Linked DNA regions of Homo sapiens. The protein of the gene in region 5 purifies or fractionates together with the protein of the main gene of each other region. This does not show direct contact. Each region holds a gene or a part of one and is shown on either strand. Other genes may lie near its edges.

What was found.
Region 1: the proteins of SLC17A5 (region 5) and ORC4 purify together in Homo sapiens (affinity purification with mass spectrometry; one large-scale study listed by BioGRID and IntAct). This does not show direct contact.
Region 2: the proteins of SLC17A5 (region 5) and PTK7 purify together in Homo sapiens (affinity purification with mass spectrometry; one large-scale study listed by BioGRID and IntAct). This does not show direct contact.
Region 3: the proteins of SLC17A5 (region 5) and INF2 purify together in Homo sapiens (affinity purification with mass spectrometry; one large-scale study listed by BioGRID and IntAct). This does not show direct contact.
Region 4: the proteins of SLC17A5 (region 5) and COQ8A purify together in Homo sapiens (affinity purification with mass spectrometry; one large-scale study listed by BioGRID and IntAct). This does not show direct contact.
Region 6: the proteins of SLC17A5 (region 5) and LRFN3 purify together in Homo sapiens (affinity purification with mass spectrometry; one large-scale study listed by BioGRID and IntAct). This does not show direct contact.
Region 7: the proteins of SLC17A5 (region 5) and XPO5 purify together in Homo sapiens (affinity purification with mass spectrometry; one large-scale study listed by BioGRID and IntAct). This does not show direct contact.

Annotation. Positions count from the first base shown.
Region 1 is NC_000002.12:147,947,738-147,951,237, forward strand, and holds part of ORC4 (origin recognition complex subunit 4), read right to left. Parts: intron 488-3,500; coding exon 314-487; intron 1-313. UniProt on the Homo sapiens protein: Component of the origin recognition complex (ORC) that binds origins of replication. DNA-binding is ATP-dependent. The specific DNA sequences that define origins of replication have not been identified yet.
Region 2 is NC_000006.12:43,079,314-43,082,813, reverse strand, and holds part of PTK7 (inactive tyrosine-protein kinase 7 isoform a precursor), read right to left. Parts: intron 1-3,500. UniProt on the Homo sapiens protein: Inactive tyrosine kinase involved in Wnt signaling pathway. Component of both the non-canonical (also known as the Wnt/planar cell polarity signaling) and the canonical Wnt signaling pathway.
Region 3 is NC_000014.9:104,706,618-104,710,117, forward strand, and holds part of INF2 (inverted formin-2), read left to right. Parts: intron 1-292; coding exon 293-434; intron 435-635; coding exon 636-1,385; intron 1,386-1,818; coding exon 1,819-1,970; intron 1,971-2,053; coding exon 2,054-2,115; intron 2,116-2,663; coding exon 2,664-2,766; intron 2,767-3,002; coding exon 3,003-3,088; intron 3,089-3,470; coding exon 3,471-3,500.
Region 4 is NC_000001.11:226,964,294-226,967,793, reverse strand, and holds part of COQ8A (atypical kinase COQ8A, mitochondrial), read right to left. Parts: intron 2,795-3,500; coding exon 2,384-2,794; intron 2,124-2,383; coding exon 2,057-2,123; intron 1-2,056. UniProt on the Homo sapiens protein: Atypical kinase involved in the biosynthesis of coenzyme Q, also named ubiquinone, an essential lipid-soluble electron transporter for aerobic cellular respiration.
Region 5 is NC_000006.12:73,640,493-73,643,992, forward strand, and holds part of SLC17A5 (sialin), read right to left. Parts: intron 1,433-3,500; coding exon 1,199-1,432; intron 1-1,198. UniProt on the Homo sapiens protein: Multifunctional anion transporter that operates via two distinct transport mechanisms, namely proton-coupled anion cotransport and membrane potential-dependent anion transport.
Region 6 is NC_000019.10:35,934,906-35,939,173, forward strand, and holds the start of LRFN3 (leucine-rich repeat and fibronectin type-III domain-containing protein 3 precursor), read left to right. Parts: upstream 1-1,468; 5' UTR 1,469-2,650; intron 2,651-4,268. UniProt on the Homo sapiens protein: Cell adhesion molecule that mediates homophilic cell-cell adhesion in a Ca(2+)-independent manner. Promotes neurite outgrowth in hippocampal neurons.
Region 7 is NC_000006.12:43,569,539-43,573,038, forward strand, and holds part of XPO5 (exportin-5), read right to left. Parts: intron 3,041-3,500; coding exon 2,968-3,040; intron 1,457-2,967; coding exon 1,319-1,456; intron 1,147-1,318; coding exon 964-1,146; intron 1-963. UniProt on the Homo sapiens protein: Mediates the nuclear export of proteins bearing a double-stranded RNA binding domain (dsRBD) and double-stranded RNAs (cargos). XPO5 in the nucleus binds cooperatively to the RNA and to the GTPase Ran in its active GTP-bound form.

The DNA.
Region 1 (3,500 bases), on a different chromosome or scaffold from region 5:
TATATAAAATAAAATTATCTAAAATATAAACCACATACAGATAAAACTAAAGCCTCATTAAAGTTTACTTCAAACTAATAACATAAATCCTAAAGCTTAACTGTGATGTTCTTTTGAGATAGAATTTAGGAGAAATGACATTTCAACTGTCTAAGAAGAAAATTTTTAAAAAGTATATAATTTGTATTACTGCAGCATTATCCTTCAGCAATATTAGAAACTTTGTGTTAATTTACTAATTTCTAAAATTTGTGTTTTAATTGCTTTAAATCATATAGCAAGGAACATTTAGCTTTATTGCCTTTTAAGATACCTGAACATTTTCATTCCACTTCTCAGCAAAAACCTTGTCTGGAAACTCTGCAGGTAGAGATAACTGTTCTTTAAATATTTTAACATACTGTGGAAAACCAAATGAATTCATTAAGTGTATCTGCCGGTGAGAAAATCTTGACTTCACTCTTTTTTCTAAGAGTTCCAAAATATCCTTAAAAACAAACAGAAATCTCTATAAGGAAGATGAATGTTTTTAAAAAAACAAAAACACTGTACCAATGTTAGAGGTATAAGTAAACTATCACCTATAATTAGTAATGTTTAGTCTACAATACATAATTAAACATTTAAAACATTTTATGCAAACTAAATAATCCACCTCCAGGCATTTGCTGGCTTGGTGATGTCATGCCTTTTTCCCACCATGTTACTCTCAGCTAATCTGTAACATTCCAAGACCCAACATGACTGTTTAAAAAAACTGACAATATTGAATAGCTATATGTCACAATAACACCAAGAGTGTCAATAAGGAATTCTGTACATTCTATGAAGAACTGAGATTAAAAAATTAATAGCATGATAGGCAGCAGGAACCAACTTTAGGAGAGGAAAGTGGCAGAAATGCAACATGGCATTCGTAAGTTATCTTCCGGCTTTTTTTTTTTTATAGTAATGCTTTTAGACTCTATTTGTATTTGTGCTATTTTTCCTTAAAAAGAAATCAGGAATCAAATTTACTGTCAAAGAACACTAAAAACCAAAGGATAACTAATATGTACTGCTTGTAAGGACATACGAAGTGTTCTTAAATGAAGAAAATACTTCCACAAAACTGATAGGCATTCAAACTATCCAAGACATCAAAAGCACAATAGGTAAGCTGTCTTCCTAAGTCACATATATTGCAGGAACTGTCATTCCTAAATCTCTTTTTAATAATGAACTTGAGCAATTTTTCAAAATATATTATAGTACACAGCATATTATATATAATATATATAATTTATATTATATATGTATATATACATCTATATATATACAGTATAGTATAATATATATTTATTACTTAAGTTACACTCCAAGGTATACAACCAAGACAAATGAAACCAGATAACCACAAAAAAAGTGTATGTGAATGTTTGCAGCAGTATTATTTTTAATAGCTTAAGAAATATAAACAACCCAAATGTCCATCAACTGATGAATGGATAAACAAAGTGTGGTATATCTACACAACAGAATATTATTTGGTAATAAAAAGGAATAAAGGGCTGATATATGCTGTAACACAGATCAACTCTGAAAACATGTTAAAGAAGCCAGTCACACAAAACTATACGTTGTATGATTCAAAAATTACTAAACAGTCAGAAAGTGGATTAGCAGATTAGTGGTTGCATAGGGCTGGGGAGGGAACAGGGGATTTGGGGTGATCACTAAAAGGTACGTGGCTCTTAAACTGTGGTGATAAATGCACAACTCTATGAATAAACAAAAACCCTGTTAATTGTATAATTTAAATGAGTGAGTTGTATGGTATAAATTACATCTCAATAAAGCTGTTTTAAAAACAGTGACATGATATTTGATGACTTTAAGGAATTACAGCTAATATAACAATTATATTAGGGAAATATATTTTTAAAGAGCTCTTATCTCCTAAAAATACATTCTAAAATACTTACTGATAAAATGATATAATACCTAGTTTTTGCCTCAAAATAATACAGGAATGAAAGGAGATGTTGAGGATAAATAAAATTAGTCTGTAGTAATTGAATCTTGGCAATGAGTGGAGAAGGGAATTCAGGGCTCATTATTTATTCTTTCCTATGTATATTGTTGAAATGTTATAAAGATTTTTAAAAGGGGAGTAGTTTAAGCCCAGAAATATACATCTCCACATCTAGCCAGATGACTCTCATAATACCTACGTGAAGAAATCATGATATAGAGGAAAGAATTCAAGTGATCAAAATGGGATCATGGTTAGTTTGGGAAGGTGGACAGGAAAGACTAATAGCCTGAGGTAGGAGGTGGGAGGGTGAATAAAAAATTTTGAATGTTTTTATGAGGTCAAAGAAAAGTATAGTGCCAGCATGAGAACTAAAAGACAAGAAAGGTTATATTCAGAGATTCAGATATTGTACATTTATTTTCTATTAAGAAAGAGTTCTAGGTCACCCATATAGGTAGACAGTGGAAGTAATAATCTATACAAGCAACAATTCAGACCCTAAATTTGGGAATGAAAAGAGATGGAAGTAAATACTGTCTTTGTAGTAGGCAGTAATGACAGAAGTTGGCAATGTGGGCATACAGGAACTAGTAAAAACAAAACAAAACCAAAAAACAAAAATGGAATTACTCCCAATGGGGAAGAAGATGCTTGCTGGCAAAGTCACTACTCCCTCTATACTTTTGTTCTCTCCCTATAAACGTGGATACACAGATAAAATTATACTTGAGGCCAGGCGCAGTGGCTCACGCCTGTAATCCCAGCACTTTGGGAGGCCAAGGGGGGTAGATCACGAGGTCAGGAGTTCGAGAGCAGCCTGGGCAACATGGTGAAACCCCATCTCTACTAAACATACAAAAATTAGCCAGGCATGGCGGTGTGTGGCTGTAATCCCAGCTACTCGGGAGGCTAAGGCAGGAGAATTGCTTGAACCCCGAAGGTGGAGGTTGCAGTGAGCCGAGATTATGCCATTGTACTCCAGCCTGGGCGACAGAGCAAGACTCCATCTCAAAAAAAAAAAAAAAGAAAAAGAAAAAAAATTACACTTGAAAGAACTACACAGTTGGAGAATTATATATATACAATAAAAAAGAACATCTGATAACACTGCTAAGAAGTTACTGGCATTTTATTTGGTCCGTTATTGGGTCAACAACACTCACCACAGCCACTTCCACCCAAAGGAAGATTTTTTTTTTTTTGGCAAGAAGGAGGATGCTTCTTTGATCCTTGTCATCGCCTGCTGCTTTTGGCAAGGAGGAATAAAGATATGTGGAGCACCAGCCAGTGATGTATGAGGGATGTTTATACTAAAGCCATGTATCATAAGCTCTAGAGCACAGGAAAGGAGGGGCAAATGACAGTCACTCTATAGAGAAACAGCACTGGAAGGAGGACTGTTGAAATATGAATTAGAAAAAAGTTTCACTTTTCTGAAAAAGAAAAAGGGTTGTAGGAAAGGAGATGTGAACATGTAAATGTG
Region 2 (3,500 bases), about 31 Mb from region 5:
AAGCTGAGGTTCTGAGAGGAGCTAAACATCAGGCTGAATATTGCAGACTTCCTAGAGTCACACATTTAATGGAGAAATTTCTTGACAAAATCTAATTCAATTTAAACCCAAAGGAGGTAATATTAAAGCGTACACATCACCCCAAGGAGTGTTCGCATAAAGTGAGTTATTTAAAGCAAATCTTCAAATACTGTGCAGCATCTCAGCTCCCAATTTATACTGTTGCAACAGGAAAGCTCTGTGCCTTGAGATTCTGTATAAAGAAGGATGCCTAGGCCAGGACTTCTGGAACTCTGGGGTACAGAGTCACCTGAGCATCTTGTTAAAATGCAGATTGCAGCAGGGCACGGTGGCTCACGCCTGTAATCCCAGCACTTTGGGAGGCTGAGGTGGGCGGATCATGAAGTCAGGAGTTCGAGACCAGCCTGACCAACATGGTGAAACCCTGTCTCTACTAAAAATACAAAAAAATTAGCCTGGCGTGGTGGTGCGCGCCTGTAATCCCAGCTGCTCAGGAGGCTGAGGCAGGAGAATCGCTTGAACCCAGGAGGTGGAGGTTGCAGTGAGCCAAGATCGTGCCACTGCACTTCAGCCTGGGCGACAGAGTGAGACTCCATCTCAAAAAGAATAAATAAATAAATTGCAGATTGCGATTCTGATTCATGCTCCCAGGAATGCTGATGCCACGTGGCCCTGGGTCTTTCTTCAAGTAGCACAGTTATAGATACTCTAGGCCCCTACCCAGTTCTCTGAGGAAGCAACTTTAGCACCAGTTTTTAAGTTGCAGTCAGCTTCATACGTAGCGGTGCTTACCCACGCACAGAACTTGGAGAAAGCTAGAAGACCCACCACATCAAAACTGAGAAAAACCACCACCAAAACCAGCCAGCCCAGGATCAGGGAAGGAAGGTCTGATCCTTAATTTGGTCACCGTAGAGCAGGCGCAAGGAGGAACAGGCAACCCCAACTCAAAGAAGCTGGGGAGGGTGCAAAAGACTCCCCATGCCTAGGATGCAAGGGGATATTTAACTCCACCCTTGATCATTCTGCCCTGCACCCAAATGGTTCATTCACTTTTTAAATAAACCTATATGAGGACCTGTTATATCGGCTGGGTGCAGTGGCTCACGCCTGTAATCCCAGCACTTTGGGAGGCTGAAGTGGGCAGATCACCTGAGGTCAGGAGTTCGAGACCAGCCTGGCCAACATGGGGAAACCCCGTCTCTATTAAAAATACAAAAATTAGCTGGGTGCAGTGGCACACACCTGTAAACCCAGGTACTCAGGAGGCTGAGGTAGGAGAATCACTTGAACCTGGGAGGTAGAGGTTGCAGTGAACCAAGATCGTGCCAATGCCTCCAGCCTGGGAGACACAGGCAGACTCCATTTCAAAAAAAACAAAAACAAACAAACAACAAACAAAAAAACCACCTACATAAGAACCCATTATAAATAAGTACTGTACTAAACTCTATGGGAGAGCCCCTCAGTAAATTAAAACAAAACCCAATAGGGGCAAAAATATGGATGGTGTCGCAAGAATGACAGTCCAGAAGTTCTACAGTGTCTACCTTCTGGCAGGAGAGATAGGACAGCTTCAGGGAAGAAGAGGCGGTGGGGCTGGGCAACAGAGAGACAGGAGAAGGCAATGTACAACCGGGGACTGGCCCGAAGGAAAGAAAGGTGGGAGAAAACCAGATATGTGTTAGGAGATGGCAAATATTCCAGCTGGACTGGAATGGAGGGTCCCAGTAGGTAAAATGTCTATTGTTGGGAATGACTGTAAAGCTGAAGGAATCTTTGAAGCACACCACAGAGGGAAGACCAAGAAAGGGCTGTGTGTGTGTGTGTGTGTGTGTATTTTTTTTTTTTGAGACGGAGTCTCGTTCCGTCGCCCAGGCTGGAGTGCAGCGGCGCGATCTCGGCTCACTGCAACCTCCACCTCCCGGGTTCAAGTGATTCTCCTGCCTCAGCCTCCTGAGTAGATGGGATTAGAGGTGTGTGCCACCACACCCAGCTAATTTTTGTATTCTTAGTAGAGACGGGGCTTCACCATGTTGTCCAGGCTGGTCTTGAACTCCTGACCTCAGGTGATCCGCCTGCCTTGGCCTCCCAAAGTGCTGGGATTACAGATGTGAGCCACTGCACCCGGCCTACTTCATTATACTTAATCCTCAGCACAACTCTAGGATGTCCCTTTATAGAAGAGGCTGAGAAGCTAAGAGGTTCATCCAGGGCCACAGGGCCTGCCAATGAGTCTGAGTTGCTGCTTTGCCAGATATACTCCTTATCCCTGGGCTCCACATCCCTCAACAGAGGATCAAAAACACTGGGGGAAGATAAAAATTAAAAACAATACAACAATAAAAAAGAATACAAATTAAAGAATACAACAGTTATTTACATAGCATTTCCATTGTAATAGGTATTACAAGTAATTTACAGATTTTTTTGTTTTTTTTGAGACAGAGTCTCGCTCTGACACCCAGGCTGGAGTGCAGTGGTGCAATCTCGGCTCACTGCAAGCTCTGCCTCCCGGGTTCACGCCATTCTCCTGCCTCAGCCTCCCAAGTAGCTGGGACTACAGGCGCCTGCCACCACGCCTGGCTAATTTTTTGTATTTTTAGTAGAGATGGGGTTTCACCATGTTAGCCAGGATGGTCTCGCTCTCCTAACCTCATGATCCGCCCACCTCAGCCTCCCAAAGTGCTGGGATTACAGGCGTGAGCCACTGCATCCTGCCCTTTTTTTTTTTTTTTTTTTTGAACTCTGTCACCCAGACCGAAGTGCAGTGACACAATCATGGCTTACTGTAGCCTCAACCTGCTGGGCTCAGGCAATACTCCCACCTCAGTCTCCTGGGCAGCTGGGACCACAGGCACGTGCCACCATGCCTGGCAATTTTTTTTTTTTTTTTGTACAGGTGGAGGTCTCATTGTGTTGCCAAGGCTGGTCTTGAGCCCCTGGGCTCAAGCGATCCTCCTCCCTCTGCCTCCCAAAGTGGTGGGATAACAGGCGTAAACCTGGCCCTTAGAGATGATTTAAAGTATACAGGAGAAGCTGGGCATAGTGGATCATGCCTGTAATCCTCATACTTTAGAGCACTGAGGCAGGAAGACTGCTTGAGCCCAGGAATTTGAGGCTTCAGTGAGCCAAGATTGTGCCACTGCACTCTAGCCTGGGTGATAGAGGAGACCCTGTCTCATAACAAAACAAAACAAAAGTATACAGGGAAGTTGTGTGTACGTTATATGTAAATACGACACCATTTTATATAAGAGACTTGAGCACCCTTGGATTTTTTTTTTTTTTTGAGACGGAGTCTCGCTCTGTCACCCAAGCTGGAGTGCAGTGGCACGATCTCGGCACGATCTCGCCCAAGCTGGAGTGCAGTGGCACGATCACTGCAAGCTCCACCTCCCGGGTTCAGGCCATTCTCCTGTCTCAGCCTCCCGAGTAGCTGGGACTACGGGCACCCGCCACCACGCCTGGCTAATTTT
Region 3 (3,500 bases), on a different chromosome or scaffold from region 5:
TGTGTCCCCAGGTGGCATCTGGCAACATCTGAAGACATTTTTGGCTGCCACGGCTGGGCAGGGGGTGCTGTTGGCATTGAGTAGGTAGAGACCAGTGGTTCTGTTTAACATCCCATAATGCACAGGACAGTCCCACATGTCACCAGTACCACAGTCGCTGAAACTCTCATCTCTAGGGATCCGTGGGAATAGAGGGGGTGATGGGGCTGGACACCCTGGCAGACAGGCCACAGTCCTTAGTCCACCAGGGAGGGGCCGGCTGCTGACCTGCACCCCACACTCGCCCGTCCAGGTGAGCTGCTCCCCGGTGTCTGCCCAGCTCCTGTCGGTGCTGCAGGGCCTCCTGCACCTGGAGCCCACCCTCCGCTCCAGCCAGCTGCTCTGGGAGGCCCTGGAGAGCCTCGTGAACCGGGCCGTGCTCCTGGCCAGCGATGGTGAGGGGGCGGGGCAGGGGCGTAGGCACAGCCTGGTGGGCAGACACTGAGGTCTTAGACCATGGGGGGGGGAGCCTGCCCTTGGCCCCAACCCATCCTCTGCCCAGGGGAGGTGGCCGCTTTTTCCTGCCTCTTCCTCAAGCCCCCATCCCTCCCTCTCCGGCTCCCTTCTCCCTTGACCCTGGACATCCCCTACTGCAGCCCAGGAATGCACCCTGGAGGAAGTGGTTGAGCGGCTCCTGTCTGTCAAGGGGCGACCCAGACCGAGCCCCCTGGTCAAGGCCCATAAAAGCGTCCAGGCCAACCTAGACCAGAGCCAGAGGGGCAGCTCCCCGCAAAACACTACAACCCCCAAGCCCAGCGTGGAGGGCCAGCAGCCAGCAGCAGCTGCTGCCTGCGAGCCCGTGGACCACGCCCAGAGTGAGAGCATCCTGAAAGTTTCGCAGCCCAGAGCCCTGGAGCAGCAGGCGTCCACCCCACCCCCACCCCCACCCCCACCCCTGCTCCCTGGTTCCAGTGCCGAGCCCCCTCCCCCTCCCCCACCACCCCCCCTGCCCAGTGTGGGGGCTAAGGCCCTCCCAACAGCACCCCCGCCCCCACCCCTGCCAGGCCTGGGGGCCATGGCCCCCCCAGCACCTCCTCTACCACCACCCCTGCCAGGCTCCTGTGAGTTCCTGCCCCCACCACCTCCACCACTCCCGGGCTTGGGATGCCCGCCCCCACCCCCACCCCTGCTGCCTGGTATGGGCTGGGGCCCTCCTCCACCCCCACCTCCACTACTGCCCTGCACCTGCAGCCCCCCCGTGGCGGGAGGCATGGAGGAGGTCATCGTGGCCCAGGTGGACCATGGCTTGGGCTCAGCATGGGTCCCCAGCCATCGGCGGGTGAACCCACCCACACTGCGCATGAAGAAGCTGAACTGGCAGAAGCTGCCATCCAACGTGGCACGTGGTGAGGGTCCCCAGACCCCCAAGGGAAGCTTCCCCTAGGACGGGGGCTGGTCTCTGCTGGGGAGAGGGGCAGGTGGCACATGGAACTTGTGTGCGCGTCCTGCCCGTGCGTGGCCAGGGCAGCCTGGCCCTTGCTCTGGGCTCGGCGCCTGTGGTTGAGGTGGGGACGGGGGAGGAGCAGGGCAGGGGCTACCTCTGAGGACCCCCCTCCACATGCTCCCGTGAGCCAGTGCATCTGGGGTGCCATGGTGCCCTGGGGCCCTGCTACAGGTGCTCAGGTAGGGAGGTAGGGTGCCTGCTGTACGCTGGACCTGGACCTACTGGGCCCCAGGCAGGACATCCTTTAGACCCTCTGGGAGGCTCCAGCCCCTGCCTGCTGGATCGCCAGGCCCCGGGGCTGCGAGAGCCTCACTGGCCGTGTCCCCACCCGACAGAGCACAACTCTATGTGGGCGTCCCTGAGCAGCCCCGACGCCGAGGCTGTGGAGCCCGACTTCTCCAGCATCGAGCGACTATTCTCCTTCCCTGCAGCCAAGCCCAAGGAGCCCACCATGGTGGCCCCCCGGGCCAGGAAGGAGCCCAAGGAGGTGGGGACGGGGAGGGGACTCAGACCGGGGCCGCCTGCCTGGCCACCCTCCGGTACCAGCCTGTTGGGTGGGGGGTTTTCTAGATCACTTTCCTCGATGCCAAGAAGAGCCTGAACCTCAACATCTTCCTGAAGCAATTTAAGTGGTGAGTGAGGGAGGTAGCCCCCATCCCAGGCCACGGAGCCTCGCCTCCACCTGAGCCTTCTGACTTGGGCCCAGCAGTGCCCTCTGCAGGCCGCCATGGGAAGTGCACACTGCATCCCCTAGGCAGGATTGTAGGCGGGTAATAGCCCCATGCTGCCCCAGCTAGGGGCTGTCCAGGCTCCCAGGGACAGAGCGCTGGGACCTCCCCCCACAAGGCCACAGACAAGTAGTGGCTAAACCAGTGGGCCCTGACTCTCAGCCCCCGAGTCCTTTCCTGCTGCGGGTGTCCAGCACTGGCCCGAGGGAGCTGGCTGGACCCGACCCATCCTGCATCTCCTGAGCAGGGCCCATGGAGGGTAGCGAGGGTGGGAGTCAGCCTGGGTCCCCTTCACCGCGTGACCGTGGGCAACAACTCGACTGTTCTGTGTCCCCCCTGCCCTGGCCACCCCATGACTACGTGGGGAAACCCTGCCAGGTGGGGTCCCAAAGAGGCTGGGTGGGGGTGACTCATGATTCACTCACCCCTGCCCGGTCCTCTCCCTGCTCCAGCTCCAACGAGGAGGTCGCTGCTATGATCCGGGCTGGAGATACCACCAAGTTTGATGTGGAGGTTCTCAAACAACTCCTTAAGCTCCTTCCCGAGAAGCACGAGGTAAGAGGACCACCCCCACACCCCACCCCCAGTTAGTGCCACCAACCAAGGGAGAGGCTGTCCCGGGGGCTCCCAGCAGGGAGACAGAGAAGGGAGGCATCCCAGCCCTACCTCTGCCCTGAACCGTGAGCCACAGGGAGCCATGATGGGCACTGGAGGGGCTGAGCCCGGCGGGCAGTCCGGGAGGGCGGGAAGCTGGCATGGGGGGATCCCACATGCCGTTCTCCTCCTGGCAGATTGAAAACCTGCGGGCATTCACAGAGGAGCGAGCCAAGCTGGCCAGCGCCGACCACTTCTACCTCCTCCTGCTGGCCATTCCCTGGTGAGCATGGCCGCCCTCAGACCCCAGGGCCTGGGCCCCAGGTGGGAGGAGAGCAGGAATAGGGAGCAGGGCCCAGCCAGGGAGGAGAAGAGGCTGTGCCAATGGCTGCCCCGGGCTCCAGGAGCAGCATTGCAGCGGTTGGGCTTCTAAACATCACTCGAGCCCCACCCCCAGTCCTTCCCCTCAAAGTGTGGGGCTGGAGGCCTCTGGAGGAATTGGATCCTGCTCTGCGCAGGCCCGGGAGGGTGCCTGTTGGATGGGGCAGGCGGTGGAAACCCCCTCCCTTTGCCCACCACCCAAGCCAGAGCCCTGTGCTGAGTGCCCCTCTGGCAGGGACAGGTGGGGGGTGCAGGCCACTGATCCCTGTCTGTGCCATCCCCAGCTACCAGCTGCGAATCGAGTGCATGCTGCT
Region 4 (3,500 bases), on a different chromosome or scaffold from region 5:
ATGGCTCCGTACATCAGGCAGGTGTCAGCAAAGGCTCCAGAGGCTTCTGATGCTACAAAGCACCCAAGACTAGGGCTTCAACTCCACTAACCCAGGCTCCCTCTGGCTACCCATAATCCCCCACCCTCTGAGGAGAGCTCTCTACCTTTTTCTTCCTACACATCTTCCTATATATAACCCCTTCCACATCAGTCTCTGTCTTCCTTAACCCGTCACCCAAAAGGGTCTGACTACTGCCTCCTTCGCCAGGACTTCGTGGTGCTCCACCAGATTCTAATTCACCATCAAGACTTTCATTCTGACCACTTTTCCCTAACAGCCTGCATTAGCTCTACCGCTTCTCCCCACCCCACAAAGACTCCGAAGTGAGGACTGCACCAGTCCTGAAACACGTCAAACTCAGCCTTCCAGGGACAGGCTCACCAAGAGTCTAGAGTGAAAGGAAGAGGGAGGGGACAGAGAAAAGGTACCGATGTGAAAACAGGGTAGCTCCTGCCCTCAATATCATGGGGAAAGAAGACAGCCTCCATTCAATATTTTAATAAGAAATAATACATGTTACCCAATGACAAGCCAATGTGCAAAGCAAGTAACATGCCAAGTCTTCCAGGGGATAAGGACCACTAGAGGCCACCAAGGCAGTGATTCTCAAACTCATTCTGACAGCAGAACTCAGGGAGGTGTGATATTCTATGAGGGACTGCTTGAAATGTTACCCCAGGAAAAGGAAATAAGCAAATACTCTTGGCTGTCACATAGATGACACTTCATACTAAATTCCTGAATGGCTAAGTACAGTGGATGCCAAATATTAAGGTAAAAATTATGAAAGAAAACCTTACTGCTGAGAAAATTCTATCCAGTTAACCAAGTCTGCTCAGCACCTTGGAGAGGGGGGCCAGCCATCATTCAATGTCAGAACCCACACACATTACGCAGCTCCCAGAATACCAGGCTCTCGGGGAGCACAGTACGTGAGCCTCTGCCCAGAACCAGTCTTGAACAAGTAGGATGGGGTTTCCAAAAGAGAATAGGCAGGAGCGGAGGAACAGCATGTATGATGGATGGTGTATGGGAGGAAAAACATAAACCAGCAAAGAGACAGGCAGACCCATGAGAGTGCATCTCCATGCCCCACCCAGCACCAGCACCATCATGGACCACTCAGACCTCTGCTGCCTACAGCCCTGGAACTAACCACTCACCCAAGGTCAGGGTCCAAATCAAGCCACCAAAACTGTGGCTTCCATTAATTATATCACCTGGAGAACCTACTGAGGACAGCTGAGTGTTAAAGAAATGCAATCCCAGTAACTAACTTAGAGTGTACCACAGCAAAGGAGATGGCACTTTAACAGGAACATCTGGGCCAGCGCATTAGCAGCAGCATGACAAACATGATGCCATCAAAGCAGACACAACTGCTATAAACCTTCACTATAAAATCACCCTTCAACTTCTATAAAAAGAGCGCATGTGTACTGGGCACAATGACAACTCAACCCCCCAAAGTACAGACAAACGGCTTTAAACAGCAGCAGCTGGAGGCCATGGCATCTTGTCACTCCACTCATGAGCCGCAGGCCTGTGGGGACCCAGCAAATGGGCTCCCTAAATGTCTGGTCCCAGGGGGAAAGAAAGCCCTGCTGAGTTGCTGAACAGCCCCAGGGAAGAGCTTTTCCTCACTGCCCAGCCTCCTTCCTGAGAGGCCTCCAAAGCAGCCGACTGGTAGTGAACCTGAGGCAGGGGTGAAACAGAGATGCTGCAGACACCGCCTCCAGGCGAGGCCTGCCGGGCAATCCAAACTCAGCTCCTGGCACAGCATCGGCCCTGTACCAACCCGCAGGGGAGAGCCAGGCAGAGCTGGAATCCAGTAACTGAATCATCCTCCCATGAAAAACTCCAGCTCCCCAAAAGCTCATGCAGGGGCGGCCACCGCCACCTGCTCCCCCAACGCCCTCCCCGGGATATTGCTGGGTCCCCACCTCCATGCAGGCCGCAGCGTGGTGCCCAGGCAGGGCAGGTGAGGCAGTCCAGGGGCACACAGCCACCTTACCTCCGAAGTTGGCCAGCCGGCCAATCCTCGTCACAGGCACCTTCCGCTCCCGGGCATGCTCGCTGAGCTGGAGGGAGACGAGAAAGAGACCTGTGGAATCAGCCAAGGGGACAGGACCAACCTTCAGAGGCTCCTGTTGCCCCCACATCTCCTCTCCACCCCACAGTCAGCAGCTCCGCCTGACAGCACACTCCACCAAGAGAAGGCCACCACGCTCCTAAAAACCCCAGACCACAGCACCCAGGAAAAGTCCCTAGAGCAGAGCCCAAGGCCATCACTGCTGTGGGTGGCAGCTACCTCGGCCCTCCAGGGGCCTCCCATACGCACCGTCTGTTTGTGCTGCTTGTTCTCGGGGCGAGCCTTAGCCTGCCGGGCCTTCTCAATGTCCTCGGCTGTGAGGCCCCCAACAGGGGATTGGTCCTGGTGGAAGAACCTTCGCTGAAAGCCCATGGCAGAGAATGAGTCTCTGGGGTTTGCAAAGAGCCTCCCGTTGGCCCTGCCCAGAGGGGAGGAGGCCTGGCCGGGGAACCCGGCTTCTCTAAAGGGTCCACTGGCCACGTAGGCAGGAGCTGGGCCCTCGCTGTGGGCATGACCCAGGGATGGGGGCGCTGACTGGTCGGGAGCGGAGGCTGAAGAGAAGTCTGTGGAGGCTCCGGCTGCATGCGGGACTGAGAAGTGGAACTCCCCTTCTGGGCCGCCGAAGTTCTCAGCAAAATATTCTTCATGTTTATCCTGACCCTGCAGGGAGCAAAGGCCAGCATTAGGAGAGCAAGAGCGAGCCAGGAGCTCCTCCCTGCCTGTCCCCTGCTGCCCAGGACAGCACACCACCAGCATCCCGCCCCCTCCCACCTCCAGAGGTGGCACAGTGCTGCACCTGAGGCCCGGCACCCTTCCCAGCCTGGGAGCCGGGACCTGGGCTCCAGCCCTGCTTCTGTTGGGGCTCTGCTGTGTGGTCCTAGGTGGGACACTGAGCACCTACTGTGTGCCCAGCCGGGGCCAGGCCAAGTGCACACTACGCCCGCAGCGGGTTCCTCACCTATAAAACAGGGCCAAGAAGGCCTCCAGGGCTTTGGAGATGGTAAACCAGGGCGCAAAAGACAGGGAAAGCTCTGAGAGGTGAACACACAGCCTAAGGCCAGCAAGGGGTGAGGGAAGCACACCGACGGGCCCACCTAAGCCCACAGCTTACTGCAGACATGGATGCCACCCACCAGCCGGGGTATGCATGTAAGAGATCCTCACTGGAGAGGTGGTTACAACCAGGACCAGGCCTGGCCGTCCCTAAGAGCTCAGGGTACAGGGAAATGGAGGGGCAGGGGAGAGGATACGCCATGTTTTCTTTGTGATGGTCACCAAGGCCTGAGCTTCGGGCCCAGGTCCTTTCTGCTTCTGAACCAGGAGTGACCTTGAGTGAGCTCCTGACCCTTCTCTGCTACTTCCTCAT
Region 5 (3,500 bases):
AGAGCTTACCTAAGGTTTCACTGTTAGATACAATAGAGCTATTATTCAAACTCTGGTCCAGTGTTCATTCCAACAGCATGATACACTGCTACTTAAAATAATCTTCATCCTCTACACCAAGCCCAGTGGCCATTATCTTGCTTGAATTAAAGAAATGCAAGAGAGCAAAATACACCATTCCCTGGATTTCAGAGGTAGAAGTTCGAAGTTATAAAGGAAAAGTGAAAATTATTAAGTATGGGGGTACACATGATGAAATACAAAAGAAAAGTGGGAAGGAAAAGAAAGACAAGAATCAAAATTTTAAAAAATGATAAAACTATTAAGAGGAGGGAAATAAAAGAGGCAAAAATCAATAATACTTCTAAAAAGAGCAGAATCATAGAACTAAATTGAGATAGTTATATAAAATCATAAAATATTTGTCTCTAAGTTACAAGACCAGAAAAAATAAAAGAATAAGCGATAAAAAAGAAATTAAATGCAACTCAACAGTCTATTGTGTAAAATGTGCTTCAGACTTGGGCATCAATGATAGAGCAGAGTTTAACGGTGGCAAGAGCACAAGAGGTAAGGATGGTCAATCTTAACCATTTTTTTTTCTTTTGAGATGGAGACTTGCTGTCGTCCAGGCTGGAGTGCAGTGGCGCGATCTTGGCTCACTGCAACCTCTGCCTCCCGGGTTCAAGCAGTTCTCCCACTTCATCCTCCCGAGTAGCTGCAATTACAGGTGTGCACCACCATGCCCGGCTAATTTTTGTATTTTTAGTAGAGATGGGGTTTCACCTGTTGGCCAGGCTGGTCTCAAACTCCTAACCTCAAGTGATCCACCTACCTTGGCCTCCCAAAATGCTGGGATTACAGGCATGAGCCACCACGCCCGGACTATCTTAACCATTTATTAATGGTTTATTTTCTTCTCTCCTAAAGTATGAGCTATGAAGTCTCTTTTGGAAAAAAGTTTTCTCTGGTTTTTGAGTAAAGGTTCCAATTTCGGGGTGCTCCTACTAGAGACCTCATTTACCACAAACAAAATCTATTCAGGTAATTTTCTAGTTAGTCCTTTCTCTAAAAAATAAACCCCTGTTATCATCCAACGTTATTTTTTGGTTCATATTCATACCAAAGAATGACATCTTTAAGAAGAAGAGAAGGAGACACACGGTAAGAAGTAAAACAAGAGAGAAAAGAAAATTACCTCTCCTAGTCCTTCTAGTGCTCTGAGTACAATGAGTGGTCCAACTCCTAAATCTGCAGCAATGGGAGTGAACAGGGTGAGGACAGCAGTGCCAAGGATCCCAAATCCTAGCAGCATTTTCCCCCCTATTTTGCTGGCAACATATCCTCCAGGAATCTGTGTGATGATGTAGCCATAAAAAAAGGAACCGAGAATCCATCCTTGAGTTTCTGCATCCCATTGGTACTTCTTACCCTACAAAAATCAGAAAAGAATAAAACAATCCTTTAAGACCTTCACAGAGCAGCTCTTTTCTCTTACTGGCATGTAAGTACATATAAATGAGATTTTGAACCACTATTTTGGACTGAAGAACATGCAAACTTTCTAGTAGGTGGGTGAGTCATAACAATATAGATATACAGTATTTAGAAGTGAATGAAAAAGAACTGACAGTCGTAAACTTCAAGAAGGCTTGCAATTTTATAAAACTAGACTGCAGGATGAGCTGCCAGAAGCTTTATAATAACTATGACCAAGAAGGCTCACAAAAGAATCACAAAAAAGGCTTGGGTATCTCTGAGCCTACTATGGCTCGGGAGGCTGCCGCCCCCCCGGCCCTGCCTCCCCCTCCCAAAAAAAGAGTCACAGGCTTAATCCAGAAAGCTATTAAGCAGAAAACTGTAGTGGCTGAGCTAGGCTTTGGGAACCAGGCTTGGTTTTAATCCTAGCTCTATTACTTACCGAATGTGTGATCTGGGAAGAGGAAATGAAATAGGCACATAAAATAAGGCTTGATGTACAGTTAGTGTTCACTTAGTGCTGGCTATTAACATGCATAAATGTAGATATTAATAATATCTCCCCATTTCAGACGAAGCACTTAAACAAGCACATGGAACAATTCCAAAGAGCAAGAATTTAAATCAAGCCACAAACTTCATGTGAATAGAACCTGTGTTTTCATTAGTAACAGCACACAGCAAGGTACTAATGAAGATTTAGTGACTGATCTGAGTATCTGACATTTTTAATGCAGTGTAGCTGTATAACAAAGCCAACATGTCAAGAACCATTCCGGGATTTCTTTCTACTGCTGATATAAGGCAGATGAAGATAAGTAGCAGGGTCAACAAAAGCACTTTGCAAAGAAAAAGACACAAAGCAAACTCTTACTTTTCCTTATTTAGGGTACCAATTTGCAGTTTATCTGTGGAATTCTAGGATTTCATGTACATTCCAGCAGTATTGTCCCTGAAGGTCACAGGTTGGAGTGGAGAAAGTGAGTGATGTGTACCCAAATGTTACTCAGCAACATTATTAAAGTCAAATATAAAGATTTTCGGAGAGATTTATTTTGTTTAGAGAGAAACCCTCTTTCCTGCTTGAATGCTCTGCTTGTGAATGATAGAGGAGATTCATCTAAGTATGAACTAGTATCTTCGTGAGCACTGAAAATGGGTGAAAATTTATTTATTTATTTATTTATTTATTTTTAAATTTTTTTTTTGAGACGGAATCTCGCTGTGGCCCAGGCTGGAGTGCAGTGGCGCGATCTCGGCTCACTGCAGGCTCCACCCCTTGGGGTTCACACCATTCCCCCGCTTCAGCCTCCCGAGTAGCTGGGACCACAGGCGCCCACCACCTCGCCCGTCTAATTTTTTGTATTTTCAGTAGAGATGGGGTTTCACCATGTTAGCCAGGATGGTCTTGATCTCCTGACCTCGTGATCCATGTGCCTCGGCCTCCCAAAGTGCTGGGATTACAGGTGTGAGCCACCGCGCCCGGCCAAAAATTTATTATTTTTTATTTATTTATTTTTTTGAGACGAAGTCTTGCTCTTGTTGCCCAGGCTGGAGTGGAATGGCGTGATCTCGGCTCACTGCAAACTCCACCTCCCAGGTTCAAGCAATTCTCCTGCCTCAGCCTCCTGAGTAGCTGGGATTATAGGTGTGTGCTACCACGCCCAGCTAATTTTTGTATTTTTAGTAAAGACAGGGTTTCACCGTGTTGGCCAGGCTGGTCTCGAACTACTCACCTCAGGTGATCCACCTGCCTCAGCCTCCTAAAGTGCTGGGATTACAGGCATGAGTCACTGCACCCAGCCTGCAAATGTACTTCTAAAAAGAATACTAGCTTTTCTTTCTGTACTATCTCCTCGTGTGATAAGCAACATAAAATGAAGTATATATAACTTAATTATAAACAAATGATGAATACACATTTATTAATACCACTATAACATAAGGCAGGCAAAATGACTTATGTGGCTTAGGTTGGGCATGTGTACATTCAGAAAAGAATGTCCTAAGAAACTGGCCAG
Region 6 (4,268 bases), on a different chromosome or scaffold from region 5:
GCCTGGGAGGGAGGATTGCCTGAGGCCAAGAGTTCAAGACCAGCCTGGGCAGCATATTGAGACCCTGTCTCTACAAGAAATTTTAAAAATTAGCTGGATATGGCGATGCATGCCTGTAGTCTCAGTTACTCTGGAGCCTGAGGTGGGAGGATTGCTTGAGCCCAGGAATTTGAGGTTGCAGTCAATTATGATTGCACCAATGTACTGGGTGACAAAGCAAGACCCTGTCTCAAAAAAAAAAGTATGGTCTTTGAAAAGTCACATTAGCATCACCTGGGTACTCGTTAAAAATGCAAATGTTTGGGTCCCACCTCAGACCCACTGAACCAGAAACTCTGAGGTTGGGACCTGGAGATCTATGGTGCCCCCGGGTGATCCTGGTGGGCTGCACTGCAAGGACACCTGGCCTGGCTCCTGCAAGGCAAGGCATCCCTCTCTGCTTTTCTTTCTTTCTTTCTTTCTTTTAAAGACAGAGTCTCACTCTGTCACCCAGGCTGGAGTGCAATGGCTGGATCTCAGATCACTACAATCTCCACCTCCCGGGTTCAAGCAATTCTCTTGCCTCAGCCTCCCGAGTAGCTGGGATTACGGGCGTCCGCCACCACACCCGGCTAATTTTTGTATTTTTAGTAGAGACGGGGTTTCTCCATGTTGGCCAGGCTGGTCTCCAACGCCTGATCTCAAAAGATCCGCCCGCCTTGGCCTCCCAACGAGCCGGGATTACAGGCGTGAGCCACCGCCCCCGGCTGTCAGTGTGTCTTGAGGTCTTTCCCTAATCCCAGATGGCACAAGTTTTCCCTCTTGCAGGCAGAGAAAGGAGCCTTGGGAAGGAGCCCCTCTGGCCTGAAAGATCAAGCCTATTGCTGGGCATGGCCAGGTAAGGAAACTCCAACCGTGGAAAGGACATTCCAGGGAGGTGGTGCTGAGATAAGGGGGGCAGAAAGAGACAGGTTTGGGGGGCCAGTGGCTCTGGAATGAAGCGCTACACTCAAGGCTAGGAATAGTTACTGAATGCACATACACACATACCATTCTCACAGCCCAGGTGCTGCGTCTTAGAGCGTGTGAGTGTGTATGTGTGTGTCTGTGTGTGCGCGCGCACGCACGTCTCTATCTCTGTTTCTGTCTTTCTCTGACTTGTCCTTATCTCTTGTCTCTCCATCACTCTCTGTGTCTCGCTGTCTCTGTGCATTTCCATGTCTCGAATATGTGTGTGTTTCAATCTGTCTCTCTGCCTCTTTCCATTTTCTCCTCTCTATCCATCAATCTAAGCCTGCCCATCTTTTTGTCTGCCTTTCTGTATCTCCGTTCTTCTCTGTCTCTCTGTCTCAGTCTCTCTGTATCCAGGGATTCTCTTTCCCAGCAGCGCCAGTGCGACTCCATGGGAGGTGGGGCCGGGGCGCGTCTTTGAGAGAAGGGGCGGGTGCCTACGCCTTTAAGCGCGGGTGCGCGCGGAGCCTGCGCCTTTAAGCGCCGGTGCGCGCGCTGCCCTGGGTTGCCGGCGAGGAGGCCGCGGGAGCGCCTGGACCCGGCCCGCCCAGCCCGGCCCCCGCCCGGCCCCCGCCTCGGCCCCGGCGGGGGAGGGGTCTCTGAGCGCGGCCCCTCCCCCCTGCGCCCCCGCCTGCGCTGCGGTGCCCCCATCCCGCGTGTCCCAGTCTGTCTGACCGTCCCTCCGCTCCCAGGCCTCGCCCCACCCGGCCCTGGGGCTGCCCGGTCGCCCCCCTCCCCACCGCAGCCGGTCCCCTCCCTCCCAGTCAGCCTCCGCCGCAGCCCAGGAAGCCAGCCGGGACGCCGCCGCCCCGGACCCCGCGCCCTAACCTCCACCTCGGGGGCCTGCACCCCCAGATTGAATCGGGAATTCCGGAAACCCGAGCCTGGAACCCTGATCTGGGACCAGCACCCCGAGATCCGGCCGTGGAACCCCAAGATCTGGAGCCTGAACCCCAGTATATGGGGCTGGAATCTCAACATCGGTCACTGGGACCTCAATATTTGGAGCCGGAACCCCACAATTTGGAACACAGACCCCAATATTTGGAGCAGAACCCCAAGATTTGACATCTAAAACCTCAAGCCTGGAGCTGAACTCTGAATTCTGGGCCTGGGACCTTGAAATCTGGGACTGGATTTCCAGTACTGTACCCTGGAACCCACTCTTGGGGACCTGAACCCTGGGATTCAGGCCTCAAATTCCAAGATCTGGACTGTGGGATTCCAAGGGGCCTGAACCCGAGTTTGGGCCTGAAGTCCTTGCTGCAGACCTGAGTGCTTAAATCTGGGGCTTGAGACCTCCCAATCTTGACTCAGCACCCCAATATCTGAATGCAGAACCCCGGGATCGGATCTCAGACTCTAAACCCCACCGTTTGGCTGCTTAGCATCCCAAGACTGGACCTGGGAGACCCTGACCCTGAACAACCCAAACTGGACCCGTAAAACTGGACCCTAGAGGCCCAATATTTAGGGGTCTGGAACCCCGAGTATTAAGGTCTGGAGACTCCGTTGCCACAGATTTGAGCCGAGTCAGGACACAGTCCCTCTACAGAAGCCTTGGGGACAGGAAAAGCATGACCAGATGCTCCCTCCAGAGCCCTGACCTCTGACTCCCCTGGAGCTAGGACTCTGCTCCCTGGGGCTGCTTCTAGCTCAGGTAAGGCTGCTGAAACCTCAAGGTGGGGACGGGCTGGGAGGAGCATTGTGGCTGCGGGTTACGGTACCAGGTACCCTTTGACACTCTTGGGGTTTCTCCAGAAAAAAAGACATTCCCCCATGGGTCTGCCTTCAGCTCCTGCTCTGCTCCAAACACTCTCTGGACACTGGCCATCCTTGCCCCTCTCTGACCTTCCCTGCCTCAGTTGATGGGACCTCCAGGTCTCTGACCCCTGCAACCCTTACAGCCTTTCGCTGTCTATCCGGTCCGACCGTCTCCGCCACCTCTCTTGTCCACCACTCCTCTCTCTGGGCTCCTTTCTCCACCTGTCCTCTCAATGGCCATCTCTGTTCCCTTTTTCTCTCTCTGATCATCTTTGTGACACCCCTGTCCACAGGTCCTCTCTCCAGTCGCCTCTGCCTGCTGCTTCTCAGTGACCATCGCTGACATCTGTGTCCACTGTGCCTCTCTCTAATCATCATTCACCAGCTCTCTTGCTCCTTCTCCACCCCTGAATCTAAGCCTAGGTCTGTGACCGTCCCCATCCATCTTTGACATTGCTGTCCACCACTCTTCTCTCCAGCAGCCTCTGTCCATCTCTCCTCTCTAGCTTCCTCTGGCCACCTTTCCCTTTCTCTGGCCATCTCTCCCACTGCTCTTGCCCTCCTCCCACCCCTGACCCTAACTCCCAGTCTGCAACTGTCTGACCATCTCTGGCCACCTCTCCTCTCTCTCTCACTCACTGATGCCCTCTGATCATCTCTGGCCACCTCTTCTCTCTCTCTCACTCATTGATGCCCTCTTGATCATCTCTGGCCACCTCTTCTCTCTTTCTCACTCACTGATGCCCTCTTGATCATCTCTGCCCACCTCTTTTCTCTCGCTCGCTGATGCCCTCTGATCATCTCTGGCCACCTCTTCTCTCTCTCTCACTCACTGATGCCCTCTGATAATCTCTGGCCACCTCTCCTCTCTCACTTGCTGATGCCCTCTGATCATCTCGAACATCTCTGCTGCCTTTCCTCTCTCCGATGACCTCTCCCCGCACCATCCTCCTGAGCAGCTGTCCTGGGCTCCCACTGACTCTGCCATGTCTGTCCTTTTCCTCCTCTCTGACCACCTTGCTGGCTTTGGGCCGTTTCTGACCACGTGTCTCTGACATGGTCATCTCCCCCAGATCTGAGCCCAACCCATGCCCTCCCTTCTCTTTGTCCACTGCTCATCTTCCTGACCATCTGTAACCCCTTCTCTTCTCTGGTCATATCTGACCACTTCTGATCATTGTTGCCACCCTGGCTGCCCCGTCTCCCCATGGCCAGCTTTTACCATCTCTGACCACGTCTAAAGCCCTCTGGTTTTCCTGCCACTCACCCAGACCAGCTGTCATTTCTCTGACCATTTCTTTACTTTTTTCTTTTGGAGAGACAGAGTCACGCTCTGTTGCCCAGGCTGGAGTGTGGTGGCGCAATCATAGCTCACTGCAGCCTCAAATTCTTGGGCTCAAATTGATCCTCCCACCTCAGTGTCCCATGTAGCTAGGACCACAGGTGGGCGCCACCATGCCTAGCTAATTTTTAAAAATTTTTGTATAATAGATACACGGTCTCACTTTGTTGCC
Region 7 (3,500 bases), about 30 Mb from region 5:
GCCTGACCAACATGGTGAAACACCATCTCTACTAAAATACAAAAATTAGACGGGCATGGTGGCAGGCACCGGTAATCTCAGCTACCCGGGAGGCTGAGGCAGGAGAATCGCTTGAACCCAGGAGGCGGAGGTTGCAGTGAGCCGAGATTGTGCCACTGCACTCCAGCATGGGTGACAGAGTGAGACTCCCTCTCCAAAAAAAAAAAAAAAATTAGTATTTTCCTAAAGAACTTCTGAAAATAAAATTAAGAATAACACCTAGGGCTGGGCTCGGTGGCTCACACCTATAATCTCAGCACTTTGGGAGAGCAAGGTGGGTAGACCACCTGAGGTCAGGAGTTTGAGACTAGCCTTGCTAACACAGCGAAACTCCATCTCTACTAAAAATACAAAAATTAGCCAGGTGTGGTGGCACATGCCTGTAATCCCAGGAGGTGGAGGCTGCAGTAAGCCGAGATCCCTATCTTTTTTTTTTTTTTTTTTTTTTTTTTTAAAAAAGGCCAGGTGCCGTGGCTCACACCTATAATCCCAGCACTTTGGGAGGCGGGCGGATCATGAGGTCAGGAGATCAAGACCTTCCTGGCTAACATAGTGAAACCCCGTCTCTACTAGAAATACAAAAAATCAGCCGGGCCTGGTGGCGGGCGCCTGTAGTCCCAGCTACTTGGGAGGTTGAGGCAGGAGAATCGCTTGAACCTGGGAGGCAGAGGTTGCAGTGAGCCGGGATCACACCACTGCACTCCAGCCTAGGTGACAGAGCGAGCCTCCGTCTCAAAAAAAAAAAAAAAAAAAAAAGAAAGAAAATGAGCTCCAGTTTTTCTGTCATTTCCTAGTTTTTTATTTTTTTGCTTATAAAATAGGATTTCATTTTGCTGACCTAGACACCCTAGTTCCTTACTGTAAGATTAATCAAAAACACTCATATTGGAAAATAGAAATGTTATAGGTAGGGGTATCCCTTACCACTTGCTGATACTTGTTTACATTTTCTTGAAGTGTGTTAAGCAGAAAACTGAAGATCCTTTCCATGTTCTGGGTTAATGTTTGCTGGATGTCCCTTCTTCTTTGAGGGGGAAGTGTCTGAAAAGTCACTACATCCTCTGCCAGTCGCAAAAGGATAAACATCACCAATTCTGTCTGTGTTTCCTACACCAATAGAAATAAGCTAGTTAAAAACTAAAATATCTTTTCATTTTATGTATATCCAAAGGCTATTTTCTGTTGCCAAAAAAAAAAACCCACAAACAAAATCAAACAACAAACCCTGAAGTTTGTTCCAAGGAAAAGTATACCAAACTGATATAGCTGTGTTTCATACCCCTTGTTTGGAAAGAGTGTCCAATTCTATTAGCATGTCAGGCCAATGCTGTGGCCACTCTCGCTTGATCATTTCCACTACAATTCGAGACAGAGCATCTTTAATATGGTTCTCCTCTTCCAAAATGTTCAATGTTCCCTGAAAAAGAACAAGAGATATTAAGAGATATGCAAGACTGGATTCCAGACTTCCAGAAAAAAGCTGGGCTGTAGAGTTGTAAAAAATTTATCAGCAGGCCTACTTTTAAACCAAACAGAACAAATGAACCTGTTCTTCAGCCTGAGTCACTTGTCCTGCATTCTTGCTAATCACTCTTCCGCTTAAAGCTTAAGTGAGGGTTGCATCACCTAAAAGGCTGTCATATCGAGAGCTAGGATGACATCATTATTCTTTACAAAATGAAAAGATTCTCATATTGATTGTTTCAGTTTGCAGAAGGCCAGGGAGGAAGAGTATAGAAATAAGGAGTATAGTGAGTAGCTGGTAAAATGGAAGGGTATGAAGGGGCAAATGAATATTTTACCAATAGTTCTAACACTAGAAGACGCAGAAGTATTAGAAGATCCCATCTCTCATGTCTGTTATTTAAAAAAAACCAAGAAAGAAAAAAGGCTACAATTTTGAACATGTTTAAAGTCATATTCTGTTTTGTGTTTAAAGAGACAGTCATCCAGTCATCACACCTGTAATCTCAGCATTTTGGAAAGCCAAGGTGGGAGGATTGCTTGAGGCCAGGGGTTTGAGACCAGACTAGCCTGGGAAACACAGTGAGACCCTGTCTCTCTAAAAACCAAAAACAAAATTAGCTGGGCATGGTACCACATGCCTATAATCCCAGCTACTTGGGAGGCTAAGGCGAGAAGATCACTTGAGCCCAGGAGTTCGAGGCTGCAGTGAGCTATGATCATGCTAATGCAATCCAGCCGGAGCAACAGAGACTCTGTCTCAAAAAAAAAAAAAAGTCATATTCTAATACTTGAAACAAATTCATTCTGCATACTTAAAATTCTGCATGTTTTTCATCATTAGTATCACATAGTAGTTGTTTGGAATAAAAGAAAATAGTGTTTCAATCTAATTTAGATCTAAGAATCTTATTGATTTGTTGAAAATATTTAATCCCCTCTGCCCTGTCTTTATAATTTAAAAAATAGAAGTCAATACATAAGCATGATTAATTAAACCTAGTAAGAGACATATGCTGAATTATGCTTTCTGCTTTTGTTTTGTTTTGTTTTTGAGATAGGGTCTTGCTCTGTTGCACAGGCTGGAGTGCCATGGCACCATCACAGCTCACTGCAGCCTGGACCTCCTGGGCTCAGAAAATCCTCCCACCTCAGCCTCCTGAGTAGCTGGGCCACAGGCATGCGCCACCACGCTCAGCTAATTTTTGCATTTTTGGTAGAGATGGGGTCTCACTGCATTGCCCAAGCTGCTCTCGAATTCTTAGATGCAGGTGATCCTCTTACCTTGGCTTCCCAAAGCGCTAGAATTACAGGTGTGAGTCACTGTGCCTGGCCTAAATTATGATTTCTTGTGCTGTCTGACCTATTTAGAAGCAGTGAATTTTTACACAAACTCCCTATTGAAGAAGTCACGCTTTGCCTAAACTACCTTGGAAACATGTCTCCCAACCACCCATTCCTTACATTTGCAATCAGCTCCATGACACTGTTCTTCAGATACACCTTCTCCAATCGAGACATGCCGTTCCACCGAAACCTGACCACCAAAATGCATAAAGTCAATAGAACCACTTTAGAAGTCTTGTCTTTACAAGAGAATAGCATGGATTTCTACATTTGATTACACTGGAGATTTCATTAAGAAATTATACTTTTGATTTTGTACCTGTCAATGAATGGGCAAAAATGATCTACATTTAACCAAAATACTAACACAAAAATTCTTGGGAAAAGGTTTTATATATGCAGTGGTCCATTAACTGGAATCCGCACAAGATTTGTACCACACGTCAGCTTTGCCTCATGATTTTATTGATGGGCCAAAAGTGAATATACATCTAGGTCAACTGCAACAATGTACTTGCTTTTCAGAAAATGCAGTTTTGACATCAGTCATTTTCTGTGCTGGCTTACAAAACAATTCTGGAAAAACTATGGCTAAGTCTTAAAGGCTACCTCTTCTGATAGGTGTTGAGGGTAGGACAATCAAGTTAGGA